Regions from separate parts of the Homo sapiens genome. Here all the other regions are linked to region 3. Evidence: fine-mapped expression QTL. A gene starts in region 3. Each other region holds a variant in brackets. All regions are shown on one strand. Distances are between the middles of the regions. Region 1 overlaps CILP2 (cartilage intermediate layer protein 2). Region 2 overlaps HAPLN4 (hyaluronan and proteoglycan link protein 4). Region 3 holds the start of MAU2 (MAU2 sister chromatid cohesion factor).

The links.
Region 1: its variant is fine-mapped to the expression of MAU2 in whole blood (INTERVAL, PIP 0.97).
Region 2: its variant is fine-mapped to the expression of MAU2 in whole blood (INTERVAL, PIP 0.97).

What each region holds. Positions count from the first base shown.
Region 1 is chr19:19,544,735-19,548,834 of GRCh38, reverse strand. It overlaps CILP2 (cartilage intermediate layer protein 2), which reads right to left. Exons shown (of 8, transcript NM_153221.2): 8 at 2,176-4,100. The coding sequence ends at 2,819. Among named protein-coding and RNA genes, the nearest start is that of CILP2, 8.5 kb to the right of the region's middle. RefSeq lists an enhancer at 2,770-3,453. The variant A/G (reference allele first, on the strand shown) is at 2,054.
Region 2 is chr19:19,256,973-19,261,072 of GRCh38, reverse strand. It overlaps HAPLN4 (hyaluronan and proteoglycan link protein 4), which reads left to right. Exons shown (of 5, transcript NM_023002.3): 3 at 1-260; 4 at 2,218-2,550; 5 at 2,865-4,100. The coding sequence ends at 3,256. Among named protein-coding and RNA genes, the nearest start is that of HAPLN4, 3.8 kb to the left of the region's middle. The variant T/C (reference allele first, on the strand shown) is at 2,447.
Region 3 is chr19:19,318,853-19,322,952 of GRCh38, reverse strand. It overlaps MAU2 (MAU2 sister chromatid cohesion factor), which reads right to left and starts at 2,124. Exons shown (of 19, transcript NM_015329.4): 1 at 1,818-2,124. The coding sequence starts at 2,093. It overlaps SUGP1 (SURP and G-patch domain containing 1), which reads left to right and starts at 2,444. Exons shown (of 14, transcript NM_172231.4): 1 at 2,444-2,490. The coding sequence starts at 2,457. RefSeq lists a silencer at 1,744-1,965 and enhancers at 1,337-2,308, 2,017-2,506, 2,527-2,576.

The DNA of each region.
Region 1 (4,100 bases), 230 kb before region 3:
GTGGTTTGAAGACTCTTGTTTTAAACATTTTACTGTTCCAAGATTTTTTCCCCATCATGGTGCTAGGAATTTTAAGAACCCCTGGTTCTAAAATTATAAAAGTCTAAAATGCCGTGGGCGGGACCAAGGGCCTGTTTGTGCCCTGAGCTGACCCAGGGTGGCTGCAGCTGGGGGTCTCTTCGAGGGGGTCCCCTGCCCCTCACTCCTCCCAGACTGAGGGGGTGTGGTCTGGCAGCCCCAATTTGGTTGGGGGGTAGACAATGGATTTACCAGGAGGCGGACGGTAGCCCAGGTTCCAGGAGGGAGGGGGTGGGATTCCTGGCTTGAGGGCTGCAGTTGGGGGAGACAGGCAGTGTCAAGAGGCACAAGGCTGTTGACTCAGGTTGATGGCGTCCTTCTCTTGGAGCCTCAGTTTCCTCATCTGGAAATTGTGGCCAAACGCTGCCCTCTTGCAGAGTTATCAGCAGGGATGGGGAGGAGCTGGACTCTAGCCCCGTGCCCTGCCCAGCTTTTGCTTCAGCCATGTCCTCCTCCTGAGATGCCCTTCCTGGCCCAGGCGTGGTGACTGGGGAGGGGGCTTCTGGAGGATGCCCGTCCACCCCTGCCCCACCCTAGGGAAGGGGACAGGGCTGGGCCAGCTGCCCGCTCCATGCCTGGCTGGCCGCCCTAGCCTGGCAGCGTCGGAGGCCCCAACACTTTCTCAATGAAAGGTATTTGGCCGTGGAGCCTGACACCTCATCACCCTCCGCCTGGAAAGCTGCAGCCAGCTTTGCCCGCTTCAAGTGGGAGCGCCCCCATTCCCACCCCTCCCCAGGACCCCCACCAGGCAGCCCTGAGCAGGGTTCTGTGGCAGGCAGGCCGGGAACCTAGGTTGCCTTGGGAGGGGCCTGTGCCTCTGAGCCTATCAGCTGGGGGTATAGAGACAGTAAGTTCTGGATAAATGTGTGTTCTCCCAAGCCCTGCCAGCTCCCTCAGGGACCTCTCGCCTCTCTTGCCTGTCACAGCCTATCGAGGGTGAGGCTGGGGTGCCAATGTCTGGGGCTGCCCAAACCCAAACTCCAGCAGAGCCCTTAGGGCCCACCTTCAGAGACCAGGGGTGACGCCTCGCATCTTGGGCTTCTCCCATGCCTCCAGGCCCCCAAGTCCACCCTAGGGCAAAGGAAGTGTTTCCCTGACTGAAAGGGTGAGAGCTGCGGAGGTTCGGATTTGCCAAGACCTCAGCCGAAGGGGGGATGTGGCCAGTGGACAAGAGCCAGGGACCCTCTGGGTGGAGCACTGGCCCAGGGCATATTGGGGTATGCACGTGTGAGCCTGTCTCCCCCTAGAGAGATAGGCTCTCTCAGGTCCCCTGAAGTTGCTAGTGCAGAGCTCACACCTCTAAATGCTGGATGGGTGAATGATGAGATCGGGGGTCTGGAGAGGGGAGCCAGTGAATGGGTGGGAGATTGAAGAGGAAGTGGGTGGTTGCCCCCTAAGCTAAGGGACGCTCCATACCCCCACTCCCTAGGGGGTGTCAGCCAGGGACAAGTCTCCCATCCCAGGTGCCCTGGAGGCCACTCCAGTCTTGCCACATTGATGCCTTCATCCCCAGACCCTGGGGAATCACACACCTAGAGCTATAGGGGGCTCAAACCTGCTGGGATTCATGCCAGACCCCAGGACTTCAGTTTTTCTGTCTGGACAGTGGGGGTGTGGTCAGGACAGCGCCGGCCCTGTGGAGCGCCAGGAGGACACACGTGCACACAGACTGCCAGCCAGCCGTGATTCTGCCGCCTCCAGACCCAGGGTCCTGGCAAGGTCAGAAAGCCCTGGCCTCGGGCAGCCCCGTCGCCACATGACCGAGGTGTGGCCGGGGTTCAGGTGGGTGGGGCCCAGGGTGGGGCTGCTGTGGACTCGACTGAGGAGGTCCAGGGTGGCCTGGCTTGCTGTTGCCTGCCCCAGAGGCTCCCCTGCCAGGGCCCCTCCCTGCCTGCTGTAGCCCCGGGGCATACGGCCAGGCACAGCCAAGGAGTCCAGGCCAGAGCAGCAGGCTGCCACTGTGTTCAGCGGTCAC[A/G]GCCGCCCGTGCTTCTTGCCCCCGGCACCCGCGTGTGCCTCCGCGTGTTTCTGCCTGAAAGGTGTATCTGGGCCGGGCAGCCCCAGCCTCCATCCTTCCTCCCTAGAGCCTGACACCATGAGTTGGAAATAAAGCATTTTTAATTCAGCCCCCGGAGGGCCTGCCCAACGCCCCGGGCAGGTCTCTAAGCACCAAACACGTGAGAATTGTTCCCCTCAGCCCCAGAGCCTCCCCCGCATGGGAACCCCTTCCTCCTTTTCACTGGGCCCAGCCTGGACCCCACACCCCCACTCACACCCACAACCAGCTCCCCACACTTTGTTTCAATAAATAACCCCAAAAACAAAGCTCGGGGCAGGGGACCTGGTCTAGCACTGAGCTCCAAACAGGCAGAGGGGACTTTGTGCCAAACGCCAGAACTCCCAAGGGTAGAAGATTGAAATCAGGGTCAAAATACGCACGAGAAGTCAGAGACGGCTTCTGAGCTGGGAGCGGGTCCCTTCAGGCTAGGGTTGAACGTCGTCCCCTGGGTGCTGGCCCCAGAGTCACCGCAAACTCCATTCCATACCACACAGCAACAATTGTCTTCCTGGTGTTTCTACCATCGGATGCTCTGGGTTCTTGTCTGACTCTGAGTTCTGGAAAGGGGCGGGAAAGGGGACCCAGACACCTGGGGAGGGGGCTGTCTGGAGAAGAAGGAGGGGCAAAACTTCCTGGGGTCAAAGGAGTCTGGAGGGAGGTGGGAAAGCGAGGCCCCTGCCCAGGTCACTGCCGGACCCTACCCCGGCGGGTGCGGAGGGGACCTGAGGCCCGGGCCTGTGCCTGCGCCGCCTCGCTCATCTCCCTGCGGATGTCACCAAGTGCTGTCGCCGGGGACTCCAGCAGCCTCTGGAAGAGGCTGGGTCGTCCGGCCGGTGGCTCCCGGCACTGGAAGGTGACGGCTGTGCCGGCATCAGCCTTCATCTCTCTGGAGAAGCCGTCAGAGGAACCATCAAAGCAGCGGCCAATGGCGATCTCCTTGGCCAAGCGTGGGCTCTGGTCAGTGACAGTGTAGACGCCATAGTTGTGGCCCAGAGGGTCTAGGGGGGCCAGCATGGAGAAGGCAGCTGGGTCCTCCGCGGGCACCGGTGGGGGGTGCCGGGTCAGGTAATCCCGAAGGAGTCCGTTGACGGCCACGCGCCGGCAGCTGCCCTGGGGCATAATGGTCACCAGCGTCCTGTCCACCTGCCGCTGGTCGAACAGCATCCCGCTGCACTTGAACTCCACGCAGGCTGCCGAGGTGCCCGGACGCTCGGGGTCTCGCACACTCCGGGCATCCCGAAGTCCGTAGAGCTGGCCGCGGGTGCGTGGGTGGCTGCCCCCTGCGTTGTGGGAGCGGACCATATACTCCTGGGGACCCTGGATCTTCACCTTGAGGAAGCAGGCCCGGAACTCCTGCGGGTTGGGCCACCAGGCCAGGAGATCGCCAGTCCAGGAGGCAGGTGTGCCCTCTCGGAAGGGGACCACGTTGTACTCGTACTTGTCCGCCTCCACCCTGGCGAAGCGGAAGTGGCTGGCAGTCACCGGGGCCCCCTGGCATTCCCGCAGGCTGCGCCACGGGTACACAGGCCCATTGGCCTCGGCGGGGTCACCTGGCCTGGGCTTGGCGAGGTTGATGCGGAAGCCGTTACGCTTGAAGGCGGGATCGTCGTGGTCCGTCCGACGGTACCCCAGCCTGTCCAGGTAGGGCTGGGTGACGCCCACGGTGGCCGGGAGTGGGCGGGGCAAGGAAGGGGCCGGCTCCAGCTCCTCGCCGCCCAGGGTGGCGGTGACCAGGGCGGTGTAGGCGTCTGGCCTGTCGGCGTCGCAGAAGGCGGGGAGGCAGGCGCCATTGGGGCCGGTGACCGCGCTGTCAAAGCGGCCCCAGGCACGGGGGTTGGCGGAGAAGCCGGGGGCGGGCTCCAGATTGACCAGCGTGACCACCACGCCCTCCACCTGCTCGCTGGGGGTGAACTTGTCGTTGGCGTAGGCGCGCACCTTCACGAAGCAGCGGCGGCGCTCAGGCACG
Region 2 (4,100 bases), 62 kb after region 3:
CGCCCACGGTCACGACGGCGTCCGGCTCAAGTGGACAAAGGTGGTGGACCCGCTGGCCTTCACCGACGTCTTCGTGGCACTAGGCCCCCAGCACCGGGCATTCGGCAGCTACCGTGGGCGGGCTGAGCTGCAGGGCGACGGGCCTGGGGATGCCTCCCTGGTCCTCCGCAACGTCACGCTGCAAGACTACGGGCGCTATGAGTGCGAAGTCACCAATGAGCTGGAAGATGACGCTGGCATGGTCAAGCTGGACCTGGAAGGTGATCAGCCGGTGGGGAGGATAAACCTTGCTTCTGAGGAAGGAGGGGGGCGGGGATGGCAAGGGACATAAACCAAATCAAGTTGGCCTGCAGGCATTTAGAAGGTTGGTTGGGGTAGAGCCCCCATATCTGGTTCTGGGTGATTTTCCTCCCCAGGGACATTGGCGATGTCTGGAGATATTTTACGTTGTCACATCTGGAGAAGGCAGTTGCTACTAGCCCCTAGTGGGTAGAGGCCAGGGATGCAGCTATACATCCTACCAGGCACAGGATAGTCCCCCACAAGGAGTGATCCAGGCCGGGCATGGTGGCTCACGACTGTAATCCCAGCACTTTGGGAGGTTGAGGCAGGCGGATCACCTGAGGTCAGGAGTTCAAGACCAGCCTGGCCAACATGCCAAAACCCCATCTCTAGTAAAAATACAAAAATTAGCCAGGCATGGTGGTGCATTCCTGTAATTCTAGCTACTTGGGAGGCTGAGGCAGGAAAATCTCTTGAACCCGGGAGGTGGAGGTTGCGGTGAGTGGAGATCGTGCCACTGCACTCCAGCCTGGGCGACAGAGCGAGACTCCATCTCAAAAATAAATAAATAAATACATAAATAAAATAAAATAAAAGTGATCCAGTCCAAAATGTCCACAATGAGGACACTGAGAAGTCCTGGGATAGGATTCAGGCACAGTGAGATCCAGGCACTCACACCGTGTCAGGAACCATCCTTCTGCTCTGCTTCCCAGGTAGGCTTTCTTCCGACAGGCTTCTCTTTCTGGAACCAAGACCACAGTGCCTAGGCTTTCACTTCCCTGCTTAGCAACTGATTTCCTAGGAGCAGCAGCTAGAGTCCCAGAGTTGTCCCTCACTGGCTCAGCTTGAGTCATGTGCCCAACTGTGAGCCAATCACTGTAGCTGGAAGATGGGATGCTCTGATTGGCTCACCCTGGAGCTGGGAGGTGGGGTTTCTATTTGAAGAATTCCCTCCCATTTGATTGGCCTTTTCCAGTTCTCTTTAGAAGATTCTAGGTGAGATTTCAGGGCCCTTGCTTGCTGACCTCCCTAACAATAACAAATAACAACAATAATAGCAGCAGCTCTCCTTTACTGGACATTTTCTGTGGCAGGTGCTTAGTTGAAGAGTTCTCAGGAGTCTCTAATTTAATTTCCTAAAAACCCCAAGGGAGACAGCTATTACCAGCAGATGGACAACAGGCTCAGAGAGGTTAGAGCCTTGCCCAGGACAGTGCTAGTTGGTGGCAGAGACAGGATTCAATCCCCAGTCTGTCAGCTCCAGGCCTTCTCCCTGGACCCTGTCTGCCTCTTTCCAGGGTACCCCACTCACCCCCAACCCGCGTCCCTCAAACACAGACACACAAAATACTTGAGCTGAACGGACTGTGAGTCCAATGAGGGACAAGTTCCAAAGTCATCAGAACTGAAGGTAGAAGGGAACCCAGTGGGTACTCCCTTGGACAATGCTGGGGGAATCAAAGGGGTCTTCACCTAGGGCCAATCTTCCAGGGGGTCCTAGTCTAGGAGAGTCAGCACTGAACGCAGGCTCCGTGGGCTCAGGGCTGGACCAGAGGGAGGGACCCAGTACTGGCGGAATGTCAGAGGCACACAGGACTCAATGGAAGAGGGTTTGGGAGTTGGATTTTGAAGGATGAATAGGAGTTCAACAGGTAGAATAAGGTGGAAAGAGCATGAGCAAAGTCCTCCAGAGGTGGAAGGGGATGGACACAAATAGTATGTTAAGGGGGAGGGTCAAGTGAATCCCAAGCTTAAAGTGAAGGGAGACAGCTATATGGGGTGTGAGCTGGGGAGGATCGTGGTCAGGTCTGAGGCCAGAGTGAGGAGGAATGGACTGAAAGGTCCCGGTTGAAGAGTCACATAGCACCCCAGACGTCAGGTGCATGAGGGTGGGCTGGGGTGTACCTGCTGATCCCGTGCGCCCCCCGCCAGGCGTGGTCTTTCCCTACCACCCCCGTGGAGGCCGATACAAGCTGACCTTCGCGGAGGCGCAGCGCGCGTGCGCCGAGCAGGACGGCATCCTGGCATCTGCAGAACAGCTGCACGCGGCCTGGCGCGACGGCCTGGACTGGTGCAACGCGGGCTGGTTGCGCGACGGCTCAGTGCAATACCCCGTGAACCGGCCCCGGGAGCCCTGCGGCGGCCTGGGGGGGACCGGGAG[T/C]GCAGGGGGCGGCGGTGATGCCAACGGGGGCCTGCGCAACTACGGGTATCGCCATAACGCCGAGGAACGCTACGACGCCTTCTGCTTCACGTCCAACCTGCCGGGTGCGTAGGCCTCACCCCAAGACTGGCCTCTGCTGCAACACTACCCCAACCCCGGGGCCTTCTTCCCCACCCAGCTCTTAGCGATCAGAAACAGGAGACCCCTCTCCCAAGAGTGCCTAGGCGCAGCACACACCGCCTGGTACCAACGCTGGTTGGGCCTAGGCTGGGGTCCCAGGCTGCAAAGGAGGAACTGTTCCTGGATCCCGGGGCCGAGGCCAGAGTCCTAGGCTGCATGCGGGGGGCAGTCCTGAATCCCACCGAAGCAGGGTCCCAGGAGCCGCACTAATAACCCACCCCCCACCTCACCCCCGCAGGGCGCGTGTTCTTCCTGAAGCCGCTGCGACCTGTACCCTTCTCCGGAGCTGCGCGCGCGTGTGCTGCGCGTGGCGCGGCCGTGGCCAAGGTGGGGCAGCTGTTCGCCGCGTGGAAGCTGCAGCTGCTAGACCGCTGCACCGCGGGTTGGCTGGCCGATGGCAGTGCGCGCTACCCCATCGTGAACCCGCGAGCGCGCTGCGGAGGCCGCAGGCCTGGTGTGCGCAGCCTCGGCTTCCCGGACGCCACCCGACGGCTCTTCGGCGTCTACTGCTACCGCGCTCCAGGAGCACCGGACCCGGCACCTGGCGGCTGGGGCTGGGGCTGGGCGGGCGGCGGCGGCTGGGCAGGGGGCGCGCGCGATCCTGCTGCCTGGACCCCTCTGCACGTCTAGGCTGGGAGTAGGCGGACAGCCAGGGCGCTTGACCACTGGTCTAGAGCCCTGTGGTCCCCTGGAGCCTGGCCACGCCCTTGAAGCCCTGGACACTGGCCACATTCCCTGTGGTCCCTTACAAACTAACTGTGCCCCTGGGGTCCCTGAAGACTGGCTAGTCCTGGCAGAACAGTACTTTGGAGTTCCCTGGAGCCTGGCCAGCCCTCACCTCTTCTGGATAGAGGATTCCCCCAACTCCCCAACTTTCTCCATGAGGGTCACGCCCCCTGAGGACCTCAGGAGGCCAGCAGAACCCGCAGGCTCCTGAAGACTGGCCACGCCTCCTGAGACCACTTGGAAACAGACCAACTGCCCCCGTGGTCGCCTGGTGGCTGGACCCCCGGGATTGACTAGAGACCGGCCGTACACCTTCTGCATCTCACTGGAGACTGAACACTAGTCCCTTGCGGTCACGTGGGACACTGGGCGCCTCCTCCTCCCCCTCCTCCTCACCTGGAGAGACTACAGGAACTTCAGGGTCACTCCCCGTGGTCACATGGAGGTTGTGGGCCGAGGCGCTTATTTTCCCTTATGGTGACCTGAGTCCTGGAGACTCCCATTCTCCCCCTCTCCCTGAGAGTCCCCTGCAGTTTCTGGGTAACAGGGCACACCCCTCTAGTTTCATGGGCGAGCACCCCCATCTGCCACCTCAGACTGACACACAGCCAGCTGGCTCACTTACTGGGGGCCACGTCCCACCCCTCAGATATTTCTTTGAAGGGAGAGCAAACCCACCCTGTCCTCTGACGTCCCTTTCCCAACTGTCACCAAACAGACCATCTTCCCAGGCCTGGGGACCGGTAAG
Region 3 (4,100 bases):
TGCCATTGCGCTACAGCCCCGGCAACAAGAGCGAAACTCCGTCTCAAAATAAACAAATAAATAAAATAAAATAAAATAAAGTCTCCTTCCAACTTTTCAGTCTGTGAAACAAAGATTTGATCTATTCCTCAAGGCAAGTTGTTACTAGCTGAGGGTGGGCTTGGATTTACCTCAGATTAATGAGTTTTTAAAATCTGAGTTGATTCTTTTCAATAATTTTCTATTCAAGCAGGACAGAGCTGGGTAAAAGGTAAAAGGGAGGCAGGGGTCTGACAGGATCACAGCGCTGCTGTGAGAAAAAAACGACTCCACAGCCTGAAATTTTATTATTTTTTCCTTATTATCTTTTTTTTCTGAGACAGGGTTTCACTGTCACCAAGGCTGGAGTGAAGTGGCGTGATCACTGCTCACTGCAGCCACGACCTCCCGGGGCTTAGCTGATCCTCCCACCTCAGCCTCTGGAGTAGATGGGACTACAGGCCCGCGTCAGTACGCCCAGCTAGTTTTTGTATTTTTTGTAGAGACGGGATCTCACTGTGTTGCCCAGGCTGGTCTCAAACTCCTGGGGTCTAGTAATCTGTCTGCCTCCGCCTCCCAAAATACTGGGATTACAGACATAAGCCACTGAGCCTGGCCCTAGAAAGTTTATTAAAGGGGCCGGGCGCGGTGGCTCAAGCCTGTAATCCCAGCACTGTGGGAGGCCGAGGTGGGCAGATCATGAGGTCAGGAGATGGAGACCACCCTGGCTAACACGGTGAAACCCCATCTCTACTAAAAAATACAAAAAATTAGGCAGGCGTGGTGGCGGGCGCCTGTAGTCTCAGCTACTCAGGAGGCTGAGGCAGGAGAATGGCCTGAACCCGGGAGGCGGAACTTGCAGTGAGCCAAGATGGCACCACTGCACTCCAGCCTGGGTGACAGAGCAAGACTCCGTCTCAAAAAAAAAAAAAAAAAGAAAGTTTACTAAAGGGCAGAATGACAGCCACTCTCCCGCATTCTTTGAGGCACCAAGATGACACAAATCAAGTTGGGTCAGGGGAGGGACTCACTCTGACGGAAGAGGATGGACTGATGGATGGTAGAAGTCACCAGTGGATGGAGAAAAAGCAGGAGCTGCTTTTAGTTCCCCTAATACTGAAACTGAACAGCGGGGCCTGGAATCCAGAACCCCTGTTTCTCCTCCTCATAGGCCTCAAATGACCAACTCCAGACTCCGGGTCTCAGCTTCCCTCGTACGACACCAGGCATTATTGATGGGGGCACAAGACCCTCCAAAAACCACGATTACCAAACTTCTGTGTCCAAGGAGAATCATGCCCTTCCAGGTTCCTGAGAGACCAGACTTCAGATTCCCGGGAGAATGCCAGGGGTCTCGCCTTCGCCAACCCCTACCCCAAGTCACTTTAGGTGGAAGCGTTTGGGGCTGATGCTCCGGAAGCTGAACCAGGAGGAGCTAATAGCTTCAGGACCCTGTGATGTCCCCATCGCCACCAACAGGTGGGATCCTCCTGAAAACCAGACGATTTGCGGATCCTGTTGCTCCCAATAACAGGCAACTTTCAGAGTACGGTGACGGGGCTCCTGGAGCCCTGTCACCAGAAACGGGAAATAAGGCGTGGGGGGCGAGGCTTTCGTGTCCCTTGAGAGGCTGGTGGCTTTGGGGTCCGGCAGAGGCGGGTGGGGGTCCTGCGGCTTTGACGGAGGTCGCGCCCCCAGGTCGCCGAGGAGCGGCCCCCCACCCGCCGCGGTCGCGACCCGTCAGCCCAGATCTTGCAAGGAGCCCGCGACTCCTCCCTCGCGGCCCGGCCCGCGCTCACCGCCTTCTCCAGGTGGCTGCGCGCCTGCTCGCTGTTCTTGGTGTGGTGATAGAGAACGGAGCCCAGCTGCAGGTGTGTACGGGCCTCGATGCGCTGCGGCGGCTTGAAGGGGAACACGGCCTGCAGGCAGTGCACGCACAGGCGGATTTTGGGCGGGCTGGAAGTGCGGAAGTGCTCAGCGAAGCCCAGAAGCGCCAGGTACCACGAGTCGGCCGCCTCGGCCTGCGCAGCCTGGGCCGCCGCCGCCTGGGCCGCTGCCGCCGCCTGAGCCGCCATTTTGGCCTCCACAACAACAAGCCGCCGCCACAGGGAGGCGGAAGCAGGCGCGCGAGACGGGGCCGGGCTCTCCTCGCGGCTTCCGCGAGATCTGCCGCCCAAAGCATCCTGGAACATGTAGTTTGTATTTGGGATGACTGCCGCTCCGGGAAGGTGTAAAAGGGCGACGCCGTTTGGTTATCGTGACTGGGACTTAGGCATCGCTGATAGGCTGAGGCTTCCGTTTCTGGAGGTTAAAAAAAAAAAAACCCAGTCGTTCACGCAGTAATAGGGCGAGTCTGACCGAGGCGGACTACATCTCCCATCAGGCGATGCACACTATAACAGGGCCCCTTAAGGGGCGCCGGAGCATTGTGGGATTGGATGAGTCTCAAGATGGACAACCGGGATGTTGCAGGTAACAGCCCCCGCCTCCTCTCAGGCGGCCGCCTGGGTCCCTGGGGCTAGGTGTCTCCCCTGACTCCTCGGGTCCGTCCTGCTGCGACCCGTGGATCCCTCGCTTCAGCCCCGGGGCAGCCCACAGCGTCGGCTTCTGCACCTCTTGGTTTCTCGAGACCCCAGACCCAGGTTGCTGGCCGCCCCCGCTTGGTTTGCTGAGGACGCACGGATCTCCGTAGAGGCCGCCACCCGGCTCGGCCCTGCGTCCCGTTTCCGAAACAACCGCCTTCAGGGCTGCTCCAACCTCCGTTCCCCAATACGGCGACAACCTTGGGCTGTCCCTGCACCCCTCTTTTCGTCGCAGCTGGCCTCTGGCCTGTGTCCCGCTTTCTGGAAAAGCTGCTTTTCCGAAGTGCTTTGAGGCTCCCTTGACACACTTTCCCGCGTCTTTTGACCCTCACTTTGCTGCAAGCCTTGGCCTTTCTGCTTCCCCAGAATAGAATGCATTTACCCATCAGCAGATACTTAGGGCGTGCTCACTGTGTGCCAAGCAGTGTGCTGGGCGCTACGCATGCAGCGGTGACCGAAACAGGGCCCTGCCTTCCTGGAGGTTGCTTTCTACTGGGGTGTCAGTGCATTAATGAGAAAATATTTACAAAAACTTACGTATGATGTGAGGTTACGTATGATATGATCAGAGTGGAGGCTTCTGATATTGGGTAGTCAGGAAAGACCTTTTCTTTCTTTCTTTCTTTTTTTTTTTTTTTTTTTTTTTGAGACAGGGTCTCACTTTGTCGCCCAGGCTGTAGTGCAGTGGCTCACTGTGGCTCCCTGGGTTCAGGTGATCCTCCCACCTCAGCCTCCCTAGTAGCTGAGACCACAGATGCGCGCCACCACACAGCGAATTTGTGTGTTTTTTGTGTTGCCACGTTTCCCATGCAGGTCTGGAATTCCTAGGCTCAAGCGATCCTCCCATCTCAGCCTCTTAAAGTGCTGGGGTTACGTAAAGGTGTGAGCCACCACACCTGGCCCAGGGAAAGGCCTTTTCAAGCAGAGGACATTTGAGTTAAGACAATGAATGCCAGCTATGGGAATCCCTGGAGGGTGGAGCCTTCCACACAGAGGGGGGCCAGTAAATGCAGAGGCCCTGGTAGGATGGGCTTGTCCTTTTGAAGAATGTCAAGGATGAAGCAGAAGGGAGGGGAACCATCTGGCGGGGCCTTGAAAATGGCCTTTTAGAATTCTTTTTTTCTTTTTGTTGAAGCGGAGTTTCGCTCTGTCGCCCAGGCTGGAGTGCAGTGGCACGATGTCGGCTGACTGCAACCTCTACCTCCCGGGTTCAAGCCATTCTTCTGCCTCAGCCTCCTGAGTAGCTGGGATTACAGGCGCCGGCCACCGCACCTGGCCAGTGTTTTTGTGTATTTTTAGTAGAGACGGGGTATCACCATGTTGGCCAGGCTGGTCTCGATCTCCTGACCTCAAGTGATCTGCCTGCTTCAGCCTCCCAGGTGCTGGGATTACAGGTGTGAGTCACCATGCCCGGCTCAGACTTTTAAAATTTGGATTTTATTCTGAGTCCCATGGGGAACCTCTGAGGTGTCTTCCCTGTCTCCATACTATCACCCTAGT